3 linked regions of the Homo sapiens genome follow. The protein of the gene in region 1 purifies or fractionates together with the protein of each later gene. This does not show direct contact. Each region holds a gene or a part of one and is shown in the gene's direction. Other genes may lie near its edges.

Evidence for each region.
Region 2: the proteins of ARPC1B (region 1) and DBN1 purify together in Homo sapiens (affinity purification with mass spectrometry; 2 studies listed by BioGRID and IntAct, with this or other methods). This does not show direct contact.
Region 3: the proteins of ARPC1B (region 1) and CORO2B purify together in Homo sapiens (affinity purification with mass spectrometry; 2 studies listed by BioGRID and IntAct, with this or other methods). This does not show direct contact.

What each region holds. Positions count from the first base shown.
Region 1 is NC_000007.14:99,384,586-99,388,329, forward strand, and holds part of ARPC1B (actin-related protein 2/3 complex subunit 1B), read left to right. Parts: intron 1-1,116; 5' UTR 1,117-1,129; coding exon 1,130-1,193; intron 1,194-2,099; coding exon 2,100-2,204; intron 2,205-3,453; coding exon 3,454-3,676; intron 3,677-3,744. UniProt on the Homo sapiens protein: Component of the Arp2/3 complex, a multiprotein complex that mediates actin polymerization upon stimulation by nucleation-promoting factor (NPF).
Region 2 is NC_000005.10:177,459,953-177,463,696, reverse strand, and holds part of DBN1 (drebrin), read left to right. Parts: intron 1-1,270; exon of another isoform or gene 1,271-1,465; intron 1,466-2,993; coding exon 2,994-3,053; intron 3,054-3,141; coding exon 3,142-3,265; intron 3,266-3,744. UniProt on the Homo sapiens protein: Actin cytoskeleton-organizing protein that plays a role in the formation of cell projections. Required for actin polymerization at immunological synapses (IS) and for the recruitment of the chemokine receptor CXCR4 to IS.
Region 3 is NC_000015.10:68,581,993-68,585,736, forward strand, and holds part of CORO2B (coronin-2B), read left to right. Parts: intron 1-3,744. UniProt on the Homo sapiens protein: May play a role in the reorganization of neuronal actin structure.

The sequences.
Region 1 (3,744 bases):
GGGTCACCCTGGGGCCTCCCCAAGAGCCATCACCCAGGCCTCGCCTAGCCCTGTGCCTCCTCCCAGCCCTGGGTGCAGCCAGTGGATGTCTGGATGGAGAATGGGATGTATCTGTTAAATATCTGCCTTTGCCTCAGCCATGAGCCCCTGCAGACCGGCCACCTCCCTTCTCCCCGTCTGAGCAGTGTGGGGGAAGACCAGGGCTCTGGGCACGGCAGGGCCAACTGCCATGTGCTGGACACCTTTCTAGGTGGTTTATGAGATTACTTCATTTCTTTTTTTTTTTTTTTTTTCTGAGATGAGTCTTGCTCTGTCACCCAGCCTCCTGAGTAGTGGGGATTACAGGCAGGTGCCACCACACCTGGCTAATTTTTTTTTTTTTTTTTTTTTTTTTTTTTGAGACGGAGTCTCACTCTGTCGCCCAGGCTGGAGTGCAGTGGTGCGATCTCGGCTTACTGCAAGCCCCGCCTCCCAAGTTCACGCCATTCTCCTGCCTCAGGCTGGGACTACAGGTGCCCGCCACCACACCCGACTAATTTTTTGTAGTTTTAGTAAAGACGGAGTTTCACCATGTTGGCCAGGCTGGTCTTGAACTCCTGGCCGCAAGTGATCCGCCTGCCTCGATCTCCCAAAGTGTTGGGATTACAGGCATGAGCCACCGGGCCTGGCCTGGATGACTTCATCTTCATCCCATCCTTAATGGGGCAGGGGAAGTTGGGTGGGGGGGGGGGGGTCGTCCATCCTATGAGGAAACCGAGGCACAGATGACAAGTGAGGGGCCTGTCCAGCTTGGAGTCCTAGCACCCCACCCCGCCCCAGGGAGCATCTCCCCTGTAGTACCGTCTCCTCCACCCTGTCCCTGGAGCCTCAGAGACATCCTGTGAAAGCTGCCCTTTTATAAGGAGGGAAACTGAGGCCCCAGGAGGGGAAGCAACATGTCAGGCCAGTTGGGAGCCAGGGCTGGCCCCTGCTGCTCCTCTCTGCAAACTGCTGCCCCTCTAAACTGAGGGGCCTCCCTGGTGTGAGGCCTGTGAGGATCATCTGGGGCCTGGTATGGGTGAAGTCAGGGGCAAGGTTGGGGCTGACGTGGATTCTCTCTTCCTCTCTCGGGCACAGGAGCCAAGCCGCCATGGCCTACCACAGCTTCCTGGTGGAGCCCATCAGCTGCCACGCCTGGAACAAGGACCGCACCCGTGAGTGCTTGCTGGGGGCCGGTGGGTGGCTGCTTCCACCTCCTGGGATGGGGACCAGCCAGAGCACACATGGGGACTCTGGAGCAGCCAGGCCCCCGGACCATGGGCTCCATGTGGCTGTCCCCTGGCCTCACCCCTGGGTCTTCCAGCTGACCAGGGGCCTCCTGGGTTAAAGTTTAAGGAGGGAATGGGCCAGTTGCGGTAGCTCATGCCTGTAATCCCGGCACTTTGGGAGGCTGAGGTGGGTGGATCACTTGAGGTCAGGAGTTCCAGACCAGCTTGGGCAACATGGTGAAACCCTGTCTCTACTAAAAATACAAAAATTACCTGGGCGTGGTGGTGGGTGTCTGTAATCCCAGCTACTCGGGGGGCTGAGGCACGAGAATTGCTTGAACCCAGGAGGCGGAGGTTGCAGTGAGTCGAGATTGCACCACTGCACTCCAGCCTGGGCAACAAAGCGAGACTCTGTCTCAAAAAAAAAAAAAGAGAGAAAGAAAGAAAGAAAAAGTGACCAAGAAAAAGCCTTTCGGAGGAGATGACATTTTGACATTTACCCAGAGACCCAGAGGGGGAGAGGAAGGGAACTGTGCCCCAGCTGGGGAGGGGCTGGCAGGTGCAGGGGCCCTGAGGTGTCAGCAGGAGCAGCGAAGGGTTCCTGGTTGGCCAGAGCAATAGGGTGGGGAGAGGTCCCAGGGTTCATTGCTGCGAGTAAAGGACAGCCAGTTCCAGGAGAAGACAGGGTGGCCTAGCAGGGCCTGAAGGACTTCAGGGGGCCCCTGCAAGGCAGAAGAGGAGAGACTGAGTCATGAAAGGTGAGGTGTTGTTGCCTAGGTGCACTGTGTAGTGTGTCCTGGCAGAGGGCAGTCATGGAGAGGGCCCCTCAATCTCCCTCCATCTCCCCTTCAGAGATTGCCATCTGCCCCAACAACCATGAGGTGCATATCTATGAAAAGAGCGGTGCCAAATGGACCAAGGTGCACGAGCTCAAGGAGCACAACGGGCAGGTGACAGGTATGTCAGGGTGGCTGGGACCACCGTCCTGAAAGGAGGTGGTGGGTTGGGGGGGTGGTGCAAGGCAGGGCATGGCCACTCATTGTGGAGCATCTGCCCACTCACCGTGAAACCCGGATTCAAACTGGCTTCAATTTTAAGGGGACTGTGTTGGCTCATGTTACCAAAAACTCACAGGGTTGAGGGCTTCAGGAGAGGCTTGATCCAGCAGCTCCACATGACCAAGAACCCATCTTTTCTGCCTCTTGGCTTTGCCCTCCAGCATGTTTGCTGATAGCATGGAGGGCTCTGACACTCCCTCATAAGCTCTAGGAGTGCCCCCTGGTGTCACTCTAAATAAGCACTGGATCTCAGTAAAAAGTGCTTGCTGGGCCGGGTGCAGTGGCTCATGCCTGTAATCCCAGCACTTCAGGAGGCCAAGGCGAGTGGATCGCTTGAGGTCAGGAGTTCGAGACCATCCTGGCCAACATGACTAAATGTTGAAAAATACAGAAATTAGCCGGGTGTGGTGGCACGCACCTGTAGTCCCAGATACTCTGGAGGCTGAGGCAGAAGAATCGCTTGAACCCAGGAGGCGGAGGTTGAAGTGAGCTGAGATTGCACCACTGCACTCCAGCCTGGATGGCAGAGCGAGACTGTGTCGCAATAAAAACAAAGAAAGAAAGAGGCCGGGTGCGGTGGCTTGCGCCTGTACTCCCAGCACTTTGGGAGGCGGAGGCGGGCGGATCACCTGAGGTCAGGAGTTCAAGACCAGCCTGGTCAACATGGTGAAACCTCATCTCTACTAAAATACAAAAATTAGCCAGGCATGATGGCGGGTGCCTGTAATCCCAGCTACTTGGGAGGCTGATATGTGAGAATTGCTTGAACCCGGAAGATGGTGGTTCCAGTGAGCTGAGATCGTGCCAGTGCACTCCAGCTTGGGCGGCTGAGCGAGACTCTGTCTCAAAAAAAAAAAAAAAAAAAAAAGATTGGTGGTACACACCTGTAGTCCCGGCTACTCAGGAGGCTGAGGCACGAGGATTGCTTGAACCTGGGAGGCAGAGGCTGCAGTGAGCTGAGATCATGCCACTGCACTCCAGCCTGGGTGACAGAGCGAGACTCTGTTTCAAAAAAAAAAAAAAGTGCCTGCTGGGCAGATACAGCTTCCACCTGGATGGTGGCCTTTCAGCCTCTCCCATGTGGCCACCATACAGCCACCTCTGCCTGAGTGTCATCAGCCTCCTGTGTTCCCTCCATCCCCCCACAGGCATCGACTGGGCCCCCGAGAGTAACCGTATTGTGACCTGCGGCACAGACCGCAACGCCTACGTGTGGACGCTGAAGGGCCGCACATGGAAGCCCACGCTGGTCATCCTGCGGATCAACCGGGCTGCCCGCTGCGTGCGCTGGGCCCCCAACGAGAACAAGTTTGCTGTGGGCAGCGGCTCTCGTGTGATCTCCATCTGTTATTTCGAGCAGGAGAATGACTGGTGGGTACCTAGGCAGGGCCAGAGTGGGCTGTTAGGGACCGGGGGCAGGACTAGAGTGTCCCCGGGAA
Region 2 (3,744 bases), on another chromosome or scaffold:
GCCCTTCAAGTATAGTTCACGTGAGAGTGACAGTGGACATTCTAGCAGGTCAGTGTGGTACCCTTTCAATTTCAGGTCCTCTAAGGAAGGGAATATGCGAGAGACTTTGGGATTTAGCACTGTGAAATGCTTTCTCTTGGCTTAAGGAGCTGTTGCTTTCTCTCCCCTGTTACGAATTGTGTTCCATATCTGAGTTCCCTTTTTGCCTGGCCTGCAGGGGAGCTCCCGTGTATCTGAAAATGCTTTAGGCACAGCAGTGGCTTTGACCCATGTGGTTAGTGCGTTGATCTCTCTCCTCCCTCTGGGCCTTACTTGTTTCAGTGTTCACATGGTTGGTAGTTTATTAAAGCCTTTGTGGAGGGCTGGGCTCAGTGGCTCATGCCTGTAATCCCAGCACTTTGGGAGGCCAAGGCAGGCGGATCATGAGGTCAGGAGATCGAGACCATCCTGGCTAACATGGTGAAACCCCGTCTCTACTAAAAAATACAAGAAATTAGCCGAGCGTGGTGGCGGGCGCCTGTAGTCCCAGCTACTCGGGAGGCTGAGGCAGGAGAATGGCGTGAACCCGGGAGGCGGAGCTTGCAGTGAGCCGAGATCTCGCCACTGCACTCCAGCCTGAGTGAAAGACTCTGTCTCAGATTAAAAAAAAAAAAGCCTTTGTGGTAGTTGCCTCTGGTCCTTTCTTTGAACAAGGCAGAGGAACCAACTGAGATTACAGCAGGCAGTGGGCAGAGCAGCAAAGGCTGGTGGGACACAGGCTCATGGGAAGGTGAAGAGCCTAGGCTGACTGGAACCCCGTGGGCTGAGGAGTGGGGGAGATTTGATTGGGAAAGGAGAGCAAGGGCAGAGGAGGAGTTTAGACTTCATTCTGGGGGTCACAAAGTTATCACTGAGGTGATAGCCCTCCTGAGGTGGGATACTACGAAGGGCCCTTCTCCCAGTGCTCCTGACATAAGCTAAAATTTTAGATTATAGGCTCAAAAACAGAGCAGCCCTGGGACTTCACCACCTTAGCAGCCCCTCCTGCCCAAGCTGCCACCTGAGCAGCAGGGGACACCGACTAAGAAGCCTTTGGTGTGTGAGTGCAGTTGAGCAAACATGCGCCCGCCTTGTGCTGGCCACCCACCCGGAGACCCCGGTCCTCATCCTGCGTTGCTCACAGCGGAGGGGGGAGGTGCCTCCGGAAACAGGAACTTAGGATGTGGTGTCATCGTGGTGGAAGCCAGGAGCACCCTGTGGGGACCCAGAGGAGGAAATGACCTGAACAAGCCTCTTGTTCAGAGGTCCTTCCCCAGGAAGCAGTGGCCACGCTGCAGCTGGAAACCAGAGGGCCTGGCCCCCGGGTGGGGAGCAGGCATTTGGGAGGGAGGCCAGTCTCCCATGCTGAGGCTTGGAGGTGGGAACGGGTGTGCCTGTTCTGGGAACTGACTGCGTCGTGCTGAGGACTTGATGTCTACATCTCACAGTATGTGGGAGCCTTGGGGTGGGGGCCGGCAGGGGGTGGTGTTGGAGAGGTGACGGCTAGGTCAGGCAGGGGTGGGGGACGTAGGCCAAGTGCGGGCGCTGCCCACCCAAAACAACGTGTGCAGTGGGCAGGTGAAGCCAGTAGGCGATGGTGGGGCCGGGGGTGAGCGGGTGGCACACGCCTGTCTTAAGGGGGCTGCGGCGAGGCCCCGGTGATGGCTGCTCCGGGCTTGCAGGTGATGTCGCCAGGGCTCTGTCACCTCAAGAGAAACTGGGACCCTCATCTCAGTATGAAAGTTCCTGGTTTTTAAGTGGTGGTAACTAATGAACATGGTTTAAAAATATCATACCAGCAAAACAAAAGCCATCTGTGGGTCATATTTAGCCAGTGCTTGCTGTGGCTCATGGGAACCCCTGAGGGATTTTAAGCTCAGGAAAATCATGGTCTGATCCGCATTTTGGAAAGGTCCTTTCAGGGCCTATGGAGAGCAAATAAGGCAGGTAGCAGTGAGGAAGGCTGGACCATGATGCCACGGTCCAGGCAGCAACATTGGGAGCATGGTGGCCCCGGCACTAGGGTAGGAGGTCCAAGAAGTTATCTGCAAAACAAGGAGCACTTCTGGAGGGCCCTAGGCACCTGCTTAGATATGGGGATGAGCAAGTGAGTGAGTGAGCCTGGTGCCCAGAGGCCTGGCAGGTCAGAGATGAGGTGGCTGAGGGCCCTGAGGGAAGAGAGGGGCTGTGTGACAGGGTTTGACGGGGCAGAGGTACCACCTCTGAAACCCTTCCTGCCAGATTGCGAAAGAAGCATGGGGGCTGTAAGAAGGCCAGAAGGGGCCGGGCGCGGTGGCTCACGCCTGTAATCCCAGCACTTTGGGAGGCCGAGGCGGGCGGATCACGAGGTCAGGAGATCGAGACCATCCCGGCTAAAACGGTGAAACCCTGTCTCTACTAAAAATACAAAAAATTAGCCGGGCGTAGTGGCGGGCGCCTGTAGTCCCAGCTACTTGGGAGGCTGAGGCAGGAGAATGGCGTGAACCCGGGAGGCGGAGCTTGCAGTGAGCCGAGATCCCGCCACTGCACTCCAGCCTGGGCGACAGAGCGAGACTCCGTCTCAAAAAAAAAAAAAAAAAAAAAAGAAGGCCAGAAGGCCGGGCACTGGTGGCTCATGACTGTAATCCATCCCAACACTTTGGGAGGCCAAGGCAGGAGGATCCCTTCAGCCCAGAAGTTTGAGACCAGCCTGGGCAACATAGGGAGACCCCATCTCTACCAAAAAATTAAAATTAGCCGGGCATGGTGGTGCACACCTGTAGTCCCAGCTACTCGGGAGGCTGAGGTGGGAGGATTGCTTGAGCCCAGGAGGCAGAGGCTGCAGTGAGCCGTGATTGTACCACTGCTCCCCAGCCTGGGTGGTAGGGCGAGAACCTGTCTTAAAAACAAAATCAATAAATAAAATACAGTAAAAAAGAAGGCCAAAAGCCCCTGTGGGGGGTAGGTGCACCAGACACTGTCCCTTTGGTTTCTAGGGTGACCATCGGGATGAGGAGGAAGAGACCCACATGAAGAAGTCAGAGTCGGAGGTGGAGGTGAGAGCTGGGGGCACCAGCCAGGTGAGGCAGACAGGGCTATCTCAGCTTGCCTGGCCCAGCCCCAACCTTTTCCTCGTGCCCTCAGGAGGCAGCAGCTATTATTGCCCAGCGGCCTGACAACCCAAGGGAGTTCTTCAAGCAGCAGGAAAGAGTCGCATCGGCCTCTGCGGGCAGCTGTGATGTACCCTCGCCCTTCAACCATCGACCAGGTAGTCCTAGGCCCCACCCCCCGTCCGGCCCCACTCCTCAGGTTGCGGCCCTGAGCCTCTCTGGGACTCTCTCAGAAGGGAGGCCTTGCCCAAGCAACCCTTGGAGAAGGCGAGACCCTTCATCCAGCGTGCATCCGCCCACCACTTCCCAGGTGGCAGGACCCCAAGAAGGGCCAGGGATGGTGGTGAAGTCGCTTGTGGCTGAACAGTGGGGAGTGCTAGGGCCTGTGGGGCAGCTCTGGCATGGGCTGAGGCACAGCGCTGGCCACGGGGAGCAGCTCGGCTGGGGTGAATTAGGTCTGGCCTGGAAGGCCGGAATGCATGCGTGCTGGGCTCTTGCCCCGGGCCTGAGGGAGCCTCCCGGAGCTTGCACCCAGGTGTCCCCGTTCCGCTTCTCAGTGTGCTGCTTCCGCCTCTCCTGAAGCTCTTCCCTGCCCTGTCTGCTGGTCTGAGTGTGCTTGCCCCATGCTGGGGTCCCG
Region 3 (3,744 bases), on another chromosome or scaffold:
CTCAGAGAGGCCTGGCAAGTGGAGAAGAGGAAAGCAGATGGCAAGTTGCTAGATCCTCAGTAGCACTTCTGTAGAGGAGGTGAGCCTGTTTTCCATTTTCCGCCTCTCTTTCATACATCCCCTTGCCCCCTTAACCATGAGGCACAGCTGCTAAAGCTGCCGGCAAACCCTGTGGTTTCTGAAGGACTCCTGCCCTAACTAGCCTTAGGAACACAGAGCCCCGGAGAACTTCTAGCCCTGTGGCATTTCTCCTGGCTATGTTTTAAACTTTATTTGATTGTATGTAATTTAGTAAGTTACCTTACTTTCTTTATAGGATGAGAAAGAGAAGAAAGCCAGAAAAAGGGAAGAAAGAGTGGAGGGAAGGAAGGCTCTGATGCAGGGCCCTGAGCATGCACAGGAGGTCAAGGTGCTGCCTCCTCTCAGTCCAACGTGCTTCCTAGGGCAGCTCGGGGCGAGGGAGCCAAGGCTGCTTTCCCTGAGACGAGTAGCTCCAGCTGATTTTATTCTTCAGGTTCTTCTGACTGCTTTGTATAATTTTCTTGTTCTGTTCCATCTCAGTCATGTACCAGACTAGCAGTGCTTCTCCAGTTCTAAATATCTGTTTCTACATTGCTATCAACTGGAAAAGCAGAGGACAAGGTACATTAATAGAGTCGTGTGTAAAGTACAAGTTAATGGGCTATAAGAAAACCTGTGAGCTAAAGTCTAGGCCCTTGCAACCCGCTTTGTACTGCTCAGAGGCCCTTTAGGGTGATTTCCTGGCTGCTGGCTGTGATGTGACCCAGAGGTGGGTCTTCCAGGTAAGGGAGGAGGTGGCTTATAGTGACCAGGCTCCCCTATTTTGAGGTGTGCTGTGTTAAGTTAGACGCTAGTGAGCTGAATGCTTTTTACCTTCCTGAGCCTGGCTCAGGGGGGTCAGCGGTCCAGGAGCAAAGTACCCTGAGCAGCACAATTGCCTGCTGCACCTTAGAAGGCCTTAGGAGAGGGAGTGTGGGAAAAGAGAAGACCTTTCATGCCAACATGCTCCTCCCTGCTAAGCAGATAGATTGTAGGTCCGTGGGCAGCACGATCAACTGTGCCCTGGCCCCTCTTTCTGCAGGCAGCCTTCCCTCTCCTGCCTCAGCTCCAGCAGGGCACAGCCTGCTGATAAGAGCCAGTGGCTCCTGCTGAATGTGAAAGGACTGAGGATGATGTTATCCTGCCCAGGTAATAGCAGGCCTGCATTTTCCAAAGATCATGTGTCTCTAGGGCCCCTACAGAGTCACCCATAGGAGAATAAAATTTTGGAGCGGGCAAATCACCCAACCCTTTCCCTTGAGAAATGAGGGAACTGAGACGCTGGGAGCAGAAGTTGTAACTTGCCCAAAGTCATTCAGTAAGTTTGAGGCTGGAGGGGCTGGCACCTCGGTCCTGACTCATGGTCAGTGCTCTTTCCACCCGGCTGCCCTGGCAAGGGGTCCTGGGGCATTCTGAGCAGGCACAAATGTTTTGGCCCCACTCCACTTACCCCACTGCATCGCCCCTTCCTGTCCTGCTGGTGCCTGGATTTCCCTCTGTGGGACACCATCTGCCCTAGATGGAAGAAGCATTGCGGGAGTGGGAGGAGGGACAGGATGTGGGGCAGGGGAGCAAAGTCCATAGGAGCCTTGCTATACCTACAGTCAGATGGCGAGGGGGATTATGAGGCCCCTCTGCCTCCAGTTCCCTGACGCAGAATCTAGGTACCCAGGAGATACCTGAACCTCCAGACATTCTACATCCCAGCACCTCGTTCCTGTCTGGGTCTCCCTGGGAGAGGAAGTAAGAGAGCCAGCACCTCAGGAAGCCTTGGTGAAGAGGAAGCGGGGGTACCAGCACAGACCCAGCTCCCGGGTGGGAGCCCACTTGCGGGTGGGCAAGGGCTCTGCCTGCTCTGCCCACACACCCATTATGCCTCCTCTCCCTTCCCGGCCTTCTTCCAGATATCCAGCATTCTCATGCTGGGAGGTGTGCGGCTAGCAGTCATTCGTTCATTTAGCCAGCACCCTCTGAGCACCTACTCTGGGCCAGGCCCTGTGTGAGGCATTAGGAAAACAGTGGCATTAGCCACAGTCCCTGGGATCCAGGACCTTAGAGGAGAAGGACATGGAAAGGCCAAAGCCTTGAGTTCAGAGTCTCGAGGTCCAGTGGGCATGAGCCAGGAGACCTCTTGCCTTGCCTGCATACTGTAAGTGCCTAATGAATGCAGGCTCTTTCCTTCCTTACTGTCTCTCCCTCTAGGCAATGAAGCTCACTCTCCAGAAAAGCGCTGTCAGGTGCTTTCTTCTGGACTGTGCCCAGAGGCCCTGTGTTCCCCTCCCCCGAGGCACTGCCACCTTGACACCTATGGCAGTTCTTAGAGGAAGCTGGGAAGGGTTTGAGGCTCTCCAGGGCTCCCAGAATCACCCCACAGTGGCCAGCCCTGTGAGGTTGGCACACACTTGAGTTTGGCTGGTTGGGAGTGTGGGCGCTGGCTGGGCCAATGTCCTGGCAGCTCAGGGATGGAGTGAGTTTTTCCACTTCTCTCCCAGGCCAGCTAGCTGAAGCAGACACAGCCTCCGCCAGGGCCAGGGCTGGTGGAGTCTCGGCTCCTGGCACCCGGGCAGCCCTGACTCTGATTTGGATATGCCTGGCCACAGAGCTTATCTGGTGTCCAGGAGATGAGAACGTGTGCAGATTCTCTCTGCGCCCAGCCCTGTCTCCTTCCCTCTTTTCCTGATCAGCCCCATTGGGTTCCCATTCCTTCCCCTGTAGGCCCTGCAGGCTCAGGCCCAGGGTCCTGGAGCACCCTGCAGCCTGGGGAGCTTGGGGCAGCTGGCATGGGGCAGGCCTTGCCAGGGAAGGACAGATGCAAATCCAGTGGCTTCCACATGAAAAGTAGCTGTTTAGAATGAGCCTCTCCTTTGTGGGCCTGGAGTGCGGGACCAGCTGCTAAGGAGGCACAAGTGGGGTGGGGGTGGGGAGTGGGGGAGAAGCCACCACCGCCCTTCCTCATCCCTCCTTTTTGCCCCCGCAGAGGCCCCTGGAGGGACTTTGTAATTGGTTTCTGGCTGGCAACCTCCTTCCAATTAATTAATGTAGCAATGGGAGGCTCCCAGGTTTGCTCAGGCTGTCTTTCGTACAGAATACATACATGGGTTACTTCCCTGAATCCCATCAGCTCTGTCATGGTGGGGACGGTCCCCTCTATTTAGGGACGGATAAACAGAGTGTCTGAGTGGAGAGATGACCACACCCTGGTCCCAGAGCTAATGTGGGTCAGAGGCGGGATGCACGCCCAGATCTTCTGGCTTTGAGCCAGAACCTTTTCAATCCGATCACATAATGGTCCACAACCCATGAAGATTAATCACCATCATCATGATAATAACAGTTATTAAGCAGGCGTTGGGCACGCATGATCGCATTTACTCTGTACAACCATGGGGTAGATTCTATTATCCATCCCATTTTCTAGAGGAGGAGAGTGAGGCTTAGTGAGAGTAGGTGAACGGCTCAAGGTCACAGGTTGAATGAATGGGTGGGGAGCAGGGATTTGTACCTGGGCTGTCTGACTCCAGAGAACACTTTCATCTCACTTCCAGGCCTTTGGTCCTGGGGCATGATCGTACTCTGCTTCCACTCCCCACCAACCCCCCACCTACAACACAGTGGGCTATTGTCTGTTGTGTTTGTGGCCCTGCCACTGAGGATGTGCAGGACAAATGCTGGTTGCCTTGAGGG